Homo sapiens: one gene and its partners. The protein of the gene in region 2 purifies or fractionates together with the protein of the main gene of each other region. This does not show direct contact. Each region holds a gene or a part of one and is shown on either strand. Other genes may lie near its edges. The genes, in order: PINX1, ABCF1 and PAAF1.

Region 1 (3,600 bases), on a different chromosome or scaffold from region 2:
GTCCCAAGAGCCAGAGGCAGAAGTTTTAAACAATCTCTCAAAATTCAGAGGTTGATCAGAAGGAGAGTATTGTTACACTAAATTAAATTTGGCCTGAGGAGGCCTCCGTACTTGAGTCCTTACATAAGGAACTGCAACCTACGTTAGAACTTAAAGGAAGCGAAAGCCTACCGTAGGAGTATACTCTTATAACATATAAGTGAGCCTCAATCCATTACAGCAGCTAGGCTTCAATCACAGGCAGCCATCTGATTCAAATAAGGCAAATCAGAGCGGTAACCCTAACCAAGTTGTCGCTGTACCTCACTTCCGTTTACTGTCCATAAATACTGCCTGACCACATAGCAGGTTGGAGTTCTTAGAACCGGTTCTAGTTCTGAAGGCTGCCCAATTCTTGAATCATTCTTTGCTCAATCAAACTCTGTATAATTTGTCTAAGGTTTTTCTTCTTAACAACACCAATCCTAAGTATCTAATTACAGAAGATGCTATACCCATTTAGCAAATTACGAAAAAGAAAACACAAAAATATTACATATTATAATGACAAGGATTTGACAATTTGGAATAACGTTGGGAAGAGGAGAACTGAAAACACTCTCTTGAAATCATGTAATCTGAATTACTGATGCCTACAAATAGCATTTTACACCTCTATACTTCAGACTTTTCAAACTATGTTCATGTTCACCATCTCACTGATTTAAGGCCACCTAGGGATAAAAATATTAAGAGAAGATTTTGTGGCCTCACAAACACTGATCAAAGGAACAGACATAAATGAATAGCAGAACTAGGGCCAAAGTCGCCAAGTGCATGCTGAATTAAGCAAACATCAAAGAATACGAAAACCAGAAGAGATCTTAGCTATCTAGGCTCTAACCCTGACTCCTCATTTTTTACTGGTGAAAAAATAGAACCGACGGGTTCAGTCTAAAACATACTCATTTCTATGGGTCTCCGCTGGTCTTACTGGCAAGAACATAAAGATACAGAGATAACTGGATCAATTTTGCCATTTTCTACCTCAATGACTAGGGGCAAATTATTTTCCTTTGAACGTCAATTTCTGCCCCTGTAAAATCGGGATGGTGCCTGACCCATTTCGTTTTGTGCTCCTAAGTCCTCCACCCTCTTAGAAAAGAGAGTGCTAACAGCACTTATTTCACAAAATCCCTGTGCTGGTCTGCTTGATCTGTTAAATAAGCTGTTTCTGTTCTTTGCTCACTGTACAACTCGCCAAGCAGGACCCGCTTTTCAGGATCAAAGCATGACTGCCATCTGGCGGCAAGCGACCTTCGCTACAGGTACAATTCAGAAGTTCAGCAGCCTCTACAGAGACAGGGGTTTCACCGACTCCACCAAGTGAAGATAAATGTCAAAGGTAAACAGGCAGGACGGGGCGCTGTGGCCAACTAACAAGGTCAAAAACGCCAGTCTCACTTAGAATTACACATTAGCCCTGCACTCCCTCGCTAAGTGGCTGACGTCCCATATTTGAGACTTCTAACTCCTTTGCTTTTTCTTTTTCTGGGTCCAAGACATCTTGGACAATGTGATTACAGTTTCAAGTGATCCTTCTGCTCAACCTTCTCTTTTTAACCTCAGGAAGCTGAGGTCCGGGGTGGGTGAAGCAACCAGTCCGGGACCCCACAAAGGGCGGCGGCGGGGCCAGTCCCGGGACCCGGTGTTCTGACCCACTTCGCACGCGACCCAGGGTGATTCTGAGAACGGCGTCTCCGGGAGACACTTGCGGTCTCTCTCACTAGCAGACCTGCGGCCAACTTTCGGGGAGCTCTGCGGCGAGCAGGACAATCAGAGCCGGGCTCGGCTCCCCGGTCCCCCGATCCCATGCGCCAGGCGCGCCGGCAACCCGAGCTCCCAGCCACTCCGGGCTGCCGTGCGCGTCACCCGGCATCTTCACCAACGCGCCTGGGTCGGGCCTCCGCTTCCGACACTCACGTTCAGCCAGCATAGACATGTCGGAGAGCCTGTGATACCGCCGCCTCTGGACCTGGGTGACTGCGGCCACTGGGCGGGCTGGAGACTCCAGGAGAATCAGGACGTGCGTAACTCCCTCGCCGGCGGACTGCAGCGGACGGGGCGCGTGCTGGTGACGTCAGTAGCGCGCGACTCGCTCCTCGAGCACGCGGCGGCGAGGGGGCGGAGCAGGGCGGGGCAACCTGGGGAGGTGACGGGAGAAAGAGGGACTGAGGGGGCGGTGGCCGCCCTGCGGGAGGTGGAGAAAGGAGTACGTATTCGCTCATTGGCTAGAGGGAGTGTGCGTACTAAGCTATTGATGTGAGTAAAGCCCGCCTGGGCGTGTCTGCCGCGGAGCATAAGCTCACGTGGATTACCTGTAGGGTCTCCATCAGGAAGCCCTAGGTGCCGGCAAGAAGGGTAGTGGAAAGACGTGACCTGCCCTCAAGCAGCTCAGCCTCACGGGGAAAAGAAATGTGTAAAGAGCTGAACTTAGGGTCATGGATGTTGTATGGACAAGGAGTTTGAAAAACTTGGCTGGAGGGGAGGACTTTGCATTGTAATGTCCCATCTCTTCCTCGTACCCTACCTCTGCTTTCTGAGATAGATAAACAAATGGATGATAGATAAATAGATAGATAGATAGATGATAGATAGATAGTAGATAGATATCAGAAGATAGGTCTGCTATCTATCGGTTTTTTTGTGGGACCCCACACAAAATAGTTGTGGGGAAAATGTTACCTCTTTAAATAATGGGATGCCTTCAACAAGGCAAAGGTTTTATTTATTTTCTCCACCACAGTGCACACACTGGAAGGTTGCCTTTATTATATCCATTTCTGTATTCGTACCAGCACCTCGCAAAATAATGTGAGTATGGTAAGGCTCCATAGATGTTTGCAAAATTTAATTCAAGTATCCCTGTCTCCAGGGGAGTTCTAATAAGCTCTTAGCTATAACACTTTTAAGTATGGTAAAGACATGTTTTTGGGTGAGTGACTCTCCAGTAAACTTCAGGTGACAGTGCACACAGAAGCCTTTCCTACATAAAAGGAAGGTAAAAAGAGCACCACTCAGGTGCCAAGAAAAGCAATTGAAGGACTAGATTCTTGTTTACAATGAAATTCTCCCTTTAACTAGGAATCTGGATGAAAAAGGTAAACCCTAGTTTCATAAAAGTTAGAAGAAACACAAAAGGATGCTTATAGCTATCAGTGAATACTGAGGGGGTGAGGGGAGGCAAGTGAATGGAATTTTCCCAGCCAAGGCAGGAAAGCTGTGACATTGTGACATAGGGAACAAGGTTAAAAGTAGGGCACTGGACTCAGGAAGGCAGGATCACAAAAATCTTAGGATAATTAGCAGATCTATTGGATTATGCCAGAGAGAGTGGAAGGTAGTTATATAGAATGGAGAATACTGAATTAGTCGGAAATCAGAGTTTTTCAAGCACCTCCTGTGTTGGTATATGATTTCAGAAAGGTAATTTTGTCTCTAAGATGGTCAAGAAGATCGAAGCAGACATTTATGGCCTGTTGCCATGGTTCAGGTGGTAAATGGTTAGTTATCGTTGGATCTTCTGTTACAATGAGGTGTCTCCTGGAAACGCTCAGTTAG
Region 2 (3,727 bases):
TCTTTGAAGAGCTGGCAGTAGAAGATAAACAGGCTGGGGAAGAAGAGAAAGTGCTCAAGGAGAAGGAGCAGCAGCAGCAGCAACAGCAACAGCAGGTACAAGTGCCACAGGGCCCACCAATCCTGGGAGGCATCTGGGTTCCACCAACCCCTTTCCAGCCCATGTTGCTCCATTCAGCTGATGGGGAACCCTCTGTGAGGCAGAAATACAGCAGGGGCCTGGGCTTCATTTTCTCACTGTTCTTTTGCTCTCAGCAGCAAAAAAAAAAGCGAGATACCCGAAAAGGCAGGCGGAAGAAGGATGTGGATGATGATGGAGAAGAGAAAGAGCTCATGGAGCGTCTTAAGAAGCTCTCAGTGCCAACCAGTGATGAGGAGGATGAAGGTAAATGACCTGAGGGGGAATGGGTACCTGGAATCCATGAGTCATGGAGAGTGATACCTCATACCCTGATCTTCAAGTTGGATTCAATTGGGGGGCCAGACATTGTAATTCTTTCCTATCTCATGTTCTCCCCCTGTCATTTCAGTACCCGCCCCAAAACCCCGCGGAGGGAAGAAAACCAAGGTAAGCCATCTGTGTGGTAAACGGAGACTCCAAGGATGCAACCTTGACCATCCTACTGACTTCTGTGGCCCTTTCATTCTCTAGGGTGGTAATGTTTTTGCAGCCCTGATTCAGGATCAGAGTGAGGAAGAGGAGGAGGAAGAAAAACATCCTCCTAAGCCTGCCAAGCCGGAGAAGAATCGGATCAATAAGGTGACAGTGGTGGCTCGATCAGTCACTCTCACTCCATTTAGCACCTTCTGGCCATGGTGGAGTAATTTCCCGCTTTTAAACTAGCTCTTCTCGGTCTGTCTTACTTATACTGTTAAAATCATCTTTTTAGAATACATGCCCAGGCTGGGCACAGTGGGTCACGCCTGTAATCCCAGCACTTTGGGAGGCCGAGGTGGGCGAATCACGAGGTCAAGAGATCGAGACCAGCCTGACCAACATGGCGAAACCTCATCTCTACTAAAAATACAAAAATTAGCCAGGCGTGGTGGCGTGCGCCTGTAATCCCAGCTACTTGGAAGGCTGAGGCAGGAGAATCACTTGAACTTGGGAGGTGGAATTTGCAGTGAGCTGAGATTGAGGCACTGCACTCCAGCCTGGGCAACAGAGCAAGACTCAGTCTCAAAAAAAAAACAACAAAAAAAACCATGCCATTTTTATCACTCAGAAATCTACAGTGATTCTGTTGCTTTAAGCACAGAACCTGAAACAAAGCCCCAGGTCCTTGCTCTTCTACTTGTGACTCTTCTGCGTGTGCATCTTAGTCCATGTCCATTTGAGCTCTTGAGAAAGCCTCCAGTGCTAGTGCCACTCACTCTGGTGGCGCACTTGCCTGACTTATAATCCTTAGCCTTGCTGACGTTCCCTAGTTATCTCTTCGCTATCTAGTCTGAAGCTGGAGGGTAGGGTTTTTCTGGGTCTCATTTTTCGTCAGCAGCACTCAATACAGATGGTCTCCAACTTCTGCTTCGGTGTACGATTTTTCTACTTTATGATGGTGTGAAAGTCATACTCATTTAGGGTACTCCTCAACTCATGATGGGATTATATCCAGATAAACCCATCATAAGTTGGAACTATTTTTTTTTTTTTTTTTTTTTGAGACGGAGTCTCACTCTGTTGCCAGGCTGGAGTGCAGTGGCGTAATCCTGGCTCACTGCAACCTCCGCCTCCCGGGTTCAAGTGATTCTCCTGCCTCAGCTTCCTGAGTAGCTGAGATTACAGGCACGTGCCACCACGCCCAGCTAATTTTTGTGTTTTTAGTAGAGACAGGGTTTCACCATGTTGACCAGGATGGTCTCGATCTCTTGACCTTGTGATCCACCTGCCTTGGCCTCCCAAAGTGCTGGGATTACAGGTGTGAGCCACCACGCCCGGCCAAGAACTATCATTTTTTATTTAAGTTTCTGGTGGGTTTATCGGGATGCAACCTGTCGTAAATGGAGGAGCATGTGTATGGTTAACACAGTAGACTCTCTAGAAATGCTTATTACACAGCAAAGTAGCACAATAATTTGTATGTATGTGTGTAATGTGTATGTGTGTCTCCTCCAGGCCGTATCTGAGGAACAGCAGCCTGCACTCAAGGGCAAAAAGGGAAAGGAAGAGAAGTCAAAAGGGAAGGCTAAGGTGAGAGAGTAACTAGCAGGAGGAGGTATTGGGGCCCAGGAATTAAAACATTTCATCAGGGCTGGGCGCGGTGGCTCACGCCTGTAATCCCAGCACTTTGGGAGGCCGAGGTGGGCGGATCACGAGGTCAGGAGATCGAGACCATCCTGGTAACACGGTAAAACCCCGTCTCTACTAAAAATACAAAAAAAATTAGCCGGGCGTGGTGGCGGGCGCCTGTAGTCCCAGCTACTCGGGAGGCTGAGGCAGGAGAATGGCGTGAACCCGGGAGGTGGAGCTTGCAGTGAGCCGAGATTGCGCCACTGCACTCCAGCCTGGGTGACAGAGCGAGACTCCGTCTCAAAAAAAAAAAAAGAAAAAAAAAAAAAACATTTCATCAGACCTGTCTTTTCCCTATTAGCCTCAAAATAAATTCGCTGCTCTGGACAATGAAGAGGAGGATAAAGAAGAAGAAATTATAAAGGAAAAGGAGCCTCCCAAACAAGGGAAGGAGAAGGCCAAGAAGGCAGAGCAGGTGTGTATTTGGTGTTGGGGCAAGGTGGAATGAGGGACTAGGGCTTCCAGGGTCCTTATGGGAGAGTTAGAATCTGGGGATATAGTTATTATCCCAGCAAACCTTTATTCTTTTCTTTTTTTGGGGGAGTAGTTGGGGTGGTGGTTCGTTTGTTTTTGTTTTTGTTTTTGTTTACACAGGATCTTACTCTGTCACTCAGGCTGGAGTGCAGTGGTGTGAACACGGCTCACTGAAGCCTCAACCTCCTGGGCTCAACAGATTCTCCTGCCTCAGCCTACTGAGTAGCTGGGACTACAAGTGTGCACCACTACCCCTGGCTAATTTTTTTATTTTTAGTATAGAGATGAGGTCTCACTATGTTGCTCAGGCTGGTCTTGAATTTCTGGGCTCAAGCAGTCCTCCTGCCTCAGCCTCCCAAAATGCTGGGTTTACAGGTGTGAGCCAGCATGCCAGCCAGCAAACTTTTTCTATAAAGGGCCATATAGTAAATGTTTTTGGCTTTGCAGGCCACATACAATCTCTATCACATATTCTTTTTTTTTTTTAACAACTCTTTGAAAATACAAAAATTATTTTTATAAAGTTCAGGAGCTATATAAAAATAAATGTCAGGTCAGCCTTGGCCCATGGGCTGTAGTTTGCAACACCTAATCCAGTGAAGAAAGGGCCTGGAATTTATCTCAGATGATCTGGGTCCTGGCTCTGCCTTCACTGGCTGTGTGACCTTGAATACATCTTCCCATCCCCTTGGGTCTCACTTGTCTCCTTTGTGTGATAGAAGGAGGAGTCCGGAGATCTCTAGGGTCCCTATGCGTCTGGCACTTCCTAATTCTGTGATTCTGCTGGATTCCTCTGACTGTGCACTAGAGCTTCCTGATCTTTTTTTTTTTTTTTTTTTTTTTGAGATGGAGTCTCACTCCGTTGCCCAGGCTGGAGTGCGGTGGCGCAATCTCAGCTCACTGCAACCTCTGCCTCCCGGGTTCAAGCAATTCTTCTGCCTCAGTCTCCCGAGTAGCTGGGACTACA
Region 3 (3,727 bases), on a different chromosome or scaffold from region 2:
TTAACAACAGCCATTTCAGTCAAGTACTTGGGCACAAACCATCCTAGAATGGGTTGAAGAGTAAATGGGAAATGAAAAATTACAGAAAACAAGAAAAAATATTCTCATTTAAATTACTTTAGGGCCAGGAGCTGTGGCTCATGCTTGTAATCCTAGCACTTTGGGAGGCTAAGATGGGAGAATCACTTGAGGCCATGAGTTCAACACCAGCCTGGGCAACATAGTGAGACCCTGTCTCTACAAAAATAAAAAAAAGTAGCTAGGTGTAGTGGTGCATGCCTAGAGTCCTAGCTACTCGAGAGGGTGAGAGGCAGGAGAACTGCTTGAACAGAGTACAGAGGATTATTAGGGCTAAGAAACTACTATGTATGATACTGCAATGGTAAATACATGTCACTGTACACTTGTCAGACCCTATAGGATATATAACACCAAGAGTAAGCCCTAATGTAAACTCTGAACTTTGGGTGACAATAATGTGTCACGTAGGTTCATCAGCTGTAATAAATGTACCACTCTGGTGGGGGATATTGATAGTGAGGAGGGCTATGTGTGAGTGGGTAAGGCAAAAGGTATATAAGAACTCCCTGTACTTTTTTTTTTTTTTTTTTTTTTGAGACAGAGTCTCACACTGTCGCCTGGGCTGGAGTGCAATGGAGCGATCTCAGCTCACTGCAACTTCCTCCTCCCAGGTTCACACGATTCTCCTGCCTTAGCCTCCCGAGTAGCTGGGATTACATGCACACACTACCACACCCAACTAATTTTTTGTATTTTTAGTAGAGATGGGGTTTCACTATGTTGGCCAGACTGGTTTCGAGCTCCTGACCTTGTGAATCGCCCGCCTCGGCCTCCCAAAGTGCTGGGATTACAGGCGTGAGCCACTGCACCTGGTCCCCTGTACTTTCTGCTAAATTTTGCTGTGAGCCTAAAATGGCCCTAAAAAATAAGGGCTATTTTTTAAAATGTGAGGGGCTAAGACAACAGTAGAAAAAACATTGTCCTATGGAACAGAGATGCAACTATTATTATGGGAAAATAAGAAGGAAAGTTGCCTTATTAGGACCTTTATTAGTCTCTCACCACAGCTATTCAACCCATTTCCTACTACTACCCCTCTTAATTCAACTTTCTAGCCCAGTCAAACATATCTTTTTATATAACACTTAGTTTCACGTCCAAGCTATAATGCAAACTGCCCCTACACCTACCCCTTGCCCTAGCTCCCATTGTCCTATCCTTACAATTACTGTCTGTTCAACTTCAACTTATCCTCTAAAGGTTCAAGCCAACTTCTTTTGTGACATCTTTCCTATCTATACTAACCGGGAACACTCCGTCCCTCTGAAAACCTATTATATTTGCATTAGGACTTGCTAATTTGCCAGGCATGGTGGTGCAGGCCTGTAGTCCCAGCTATTAGGGAGGCTGTGGTGGGAGCATCACTTGAGCCCAGGAGTTCAATGCCAGCCTGGGCAAAACAGCAGGACTCTATCGCTAAAAGAATAAAATAAATAAAAAGAATCACTAATTATTTCAGCCAAATGTTACTGTTCTCTAAATGTTTTAAAGCAAGCTTGTCCAACCTGCAGCCCAGGGTGGCTCTGAATGAGGCCCAACACAAATTCATAAACTTTCTTAAAATATTATGAGATTTATTTATTTTTAGCTCAGCTATCATCAATGTTGTGTATTTTATGTGTGGCCCAAGACAAGTCTTCCAATGTGGCCCAGGGAAGCCAAAAGATCGGACACCCCTGCTTTATAGGCATTTATCTCATCTTCTACATTAGATTGTACTTACTGAAACGCAGTGCTATGACATATACTTCCTTTGTAGATTCCAAAGTAATAGAAACATAGTAGGTACAGAGTAAATATTAATCGTATGGTGAAAACAGAAATACCAGGCACAGAGCAGAAAAGGATGAGGAAGAAAAGGAGAAACTAAGGCAATCACTGAAGGGGGCCTAAGAAAATAAAACAATGCTACATATCATTATCAACTTACTGGGCATCTGCTCAGGGGAGCCAAGGTTTATGGAGTTGTCAGCAGCACCCACCGCCACTCCATTGATAGAAGAACCACAATCTGCAAGGACTCCCAAGCAGGCTGAGCGCCCACAATCCCAAAGTCGTGCTGTCCCATCTCGAGAAGCAGACACCACATTCCTCCCCCGATCAACGATGGCTGTATCCAGGATACCTAGCAAGAGAAAAAAACTCCCTAAGATGGAGGATGGAGTAAAGGAACTACAAGGGCAGAGAAGATGGAGCTGCATAAATGACTCCATCCCTTCACAAACATGTTCTGAACAGGTACCACATGCTGGCCATGTTCAAGTGCTAGAAAAACAGAAATAGAGTCCCAGCTTCCCAATGAATCAAAGTCTAGCTGTGAAAGACAGGCATGGAAAAACAAGTACTGGATTTAATTTTTAGTGGAGTGTGCTAGAGAAATCATGTTCAAGTTTTTTATTTTGTCTTCAAAACTCTTTTTTAAAAAGAAAAATTAAGAGGTCGGGCGTGGTGGCTCACACCTGTAATCCCAGCACTTTGGGAGGCCGAGGCAGGTGGATTGCCTGAGCTCAGCAGTTCAAGACCAGCCTAGCTAACATGATGAAACCCTGTCTTTACTAAAAATACAAAATAGCCAGGCGTGGTGACACATGCCTGTAATCCCAGCTAAACAGGAGGCTGAGGCAGGAGAATCGCTCGAACCTGGGAGGCGTAGGTTGCAGTGACCCGAGATCACGCCACTGCACTCCAGCCTTCAACAGAGGAGACTCCGTCTCAAAAAATAAATAAATAAATAAAAAATAAAAATTAAGTAGACACCTTAACAAGAACTTTGGAGGAAAAAAAAGTTGACACCTAAGCTAATTCAGTTTGAAAATCACTGCCTTGGCCAGGTGCAGTGGTACACACCTGTAATTCCAGCACTTTGGGAGGCTGAGGCAGGAGAATCTCTTGAGCGCAGGAGTTTAAGACCAGCCTGGGTGACACAGCATGACTCTGTCTGTACAAAAAATTTAATTTAGGTATGGTGGCTCGTGCCTGTAATCCCAGCTACTCAGGAGGCTGAGGTGGGAGGATTGCTTGAGCCCTGGAGTTCAAGGCTACAGTAAGCCATGATTGCTCCACTGCACTCCAGCCTGGGCAGTGGAGCAAGACCCATATATATATATACACACATATATATACACATATATATATACACACATATATATACATATATATATACACACATATATACACATATATACACATATATATACATATATACACATATATATACATATATACACACATATATATACATATATACACATATATACACATATATACATATATATACACATATATATACACACATATATATATATTTATTTACATATATGCTGCTGCTGCTTTCACTGATAATTGATTAAAAGGGTTAGCCTCCCCATTTGAAAAAAGGACATGACTTCTGGTTTTGGCCAAGAAAGAGTAGTCCCATTGCTCCTAGGTCCTTCTGTTTACAACTGAAAAGTCATTGACACCACAAGCATAGTAAGACTTGGAATGATGGAAAGAAGGTGGTGGACCACTTAAGGACCTCAGGACTTAAAAAACAACACAGCAATGAGTTCCTGGATTTCCTTATTGCCTCCCACATGTCCTGGACAGGACACTGCAGAAGCCTCCAACACAAAACTGCTAACAGGAACAGAGTTAAAAAACAAAA

Evidence for each region.
Region 1: the proteins of ABCF1 (region 2) and PINX1 purify together in Homo sapiens (co-immunoprecipitation; one large-scale study listed by IntAct). This does not show direct contact.
Region 3: the proteins of ABCF1 (region 2) and PAAF1 fractionate together in Homo sapiens (co-fractionation; one large-scale study listed by BioGRID). This does not show direct contact.

What each region holds. Positions count from the first base shown.
Region 1 is NC_000008.11:10,837,776-10,841,375, forward strand, and holds the start of PINX1 (PIN2/TERF1-interacting telomerase inhibitor 1), read right to left. Parts: upstream 2,101-3,600; 5' UTR 1,982-2,100; coding exon 1,963-1,981; intron 1-1,962. UniProt on the Homo sapiens protein: Microtubule-binding protein essential for faithful chromosome segregation. Mediates TRF1 and TERT accumulation in nucleolus and enhances TRF1 binding to telomeres. Inhibits telomerase activity. May inhibit cell proliferation and act as tumor suppressor.
Region 2 is NC_000006.12:30,577,819-30,581,545, forward strand, and holds part of ABCF1 (ATP-binding cassette sub-family F member 1), read left to right. Parts: coding exon 1-95; intron 96-257; coding exon 258-384; intron 385-529; coding exon 530-567; intron 568-651; coding exon 652-759; intron 760-2,112; coding exon 2,113-2,187; intron 2,188-2,587; coding exon 2,588-2,701; intron 2,702-3,727. UniProt on the Homo sapiens protein: Isoform 2 is required for efficient Cap- and IRES-mediated mRNA translation initiation. Isoform 2 is not involved in the ribosome biogenesis.
Region 3 is NC_000011.10:73,907,878-73,911,604, reverse strand, and holds part of PAAF1 (proteasomal ATPase-associated factor 1), read right to left. Parts: intron 2,207-3,727; coding exon 2,012-2,206; intron 1-2,011. UniProt on the Homo sapiens protein: Inhibits proteasome 26S assembly and proteolytic activity by impairing the association of the 19S regulatory complex with the 20S core.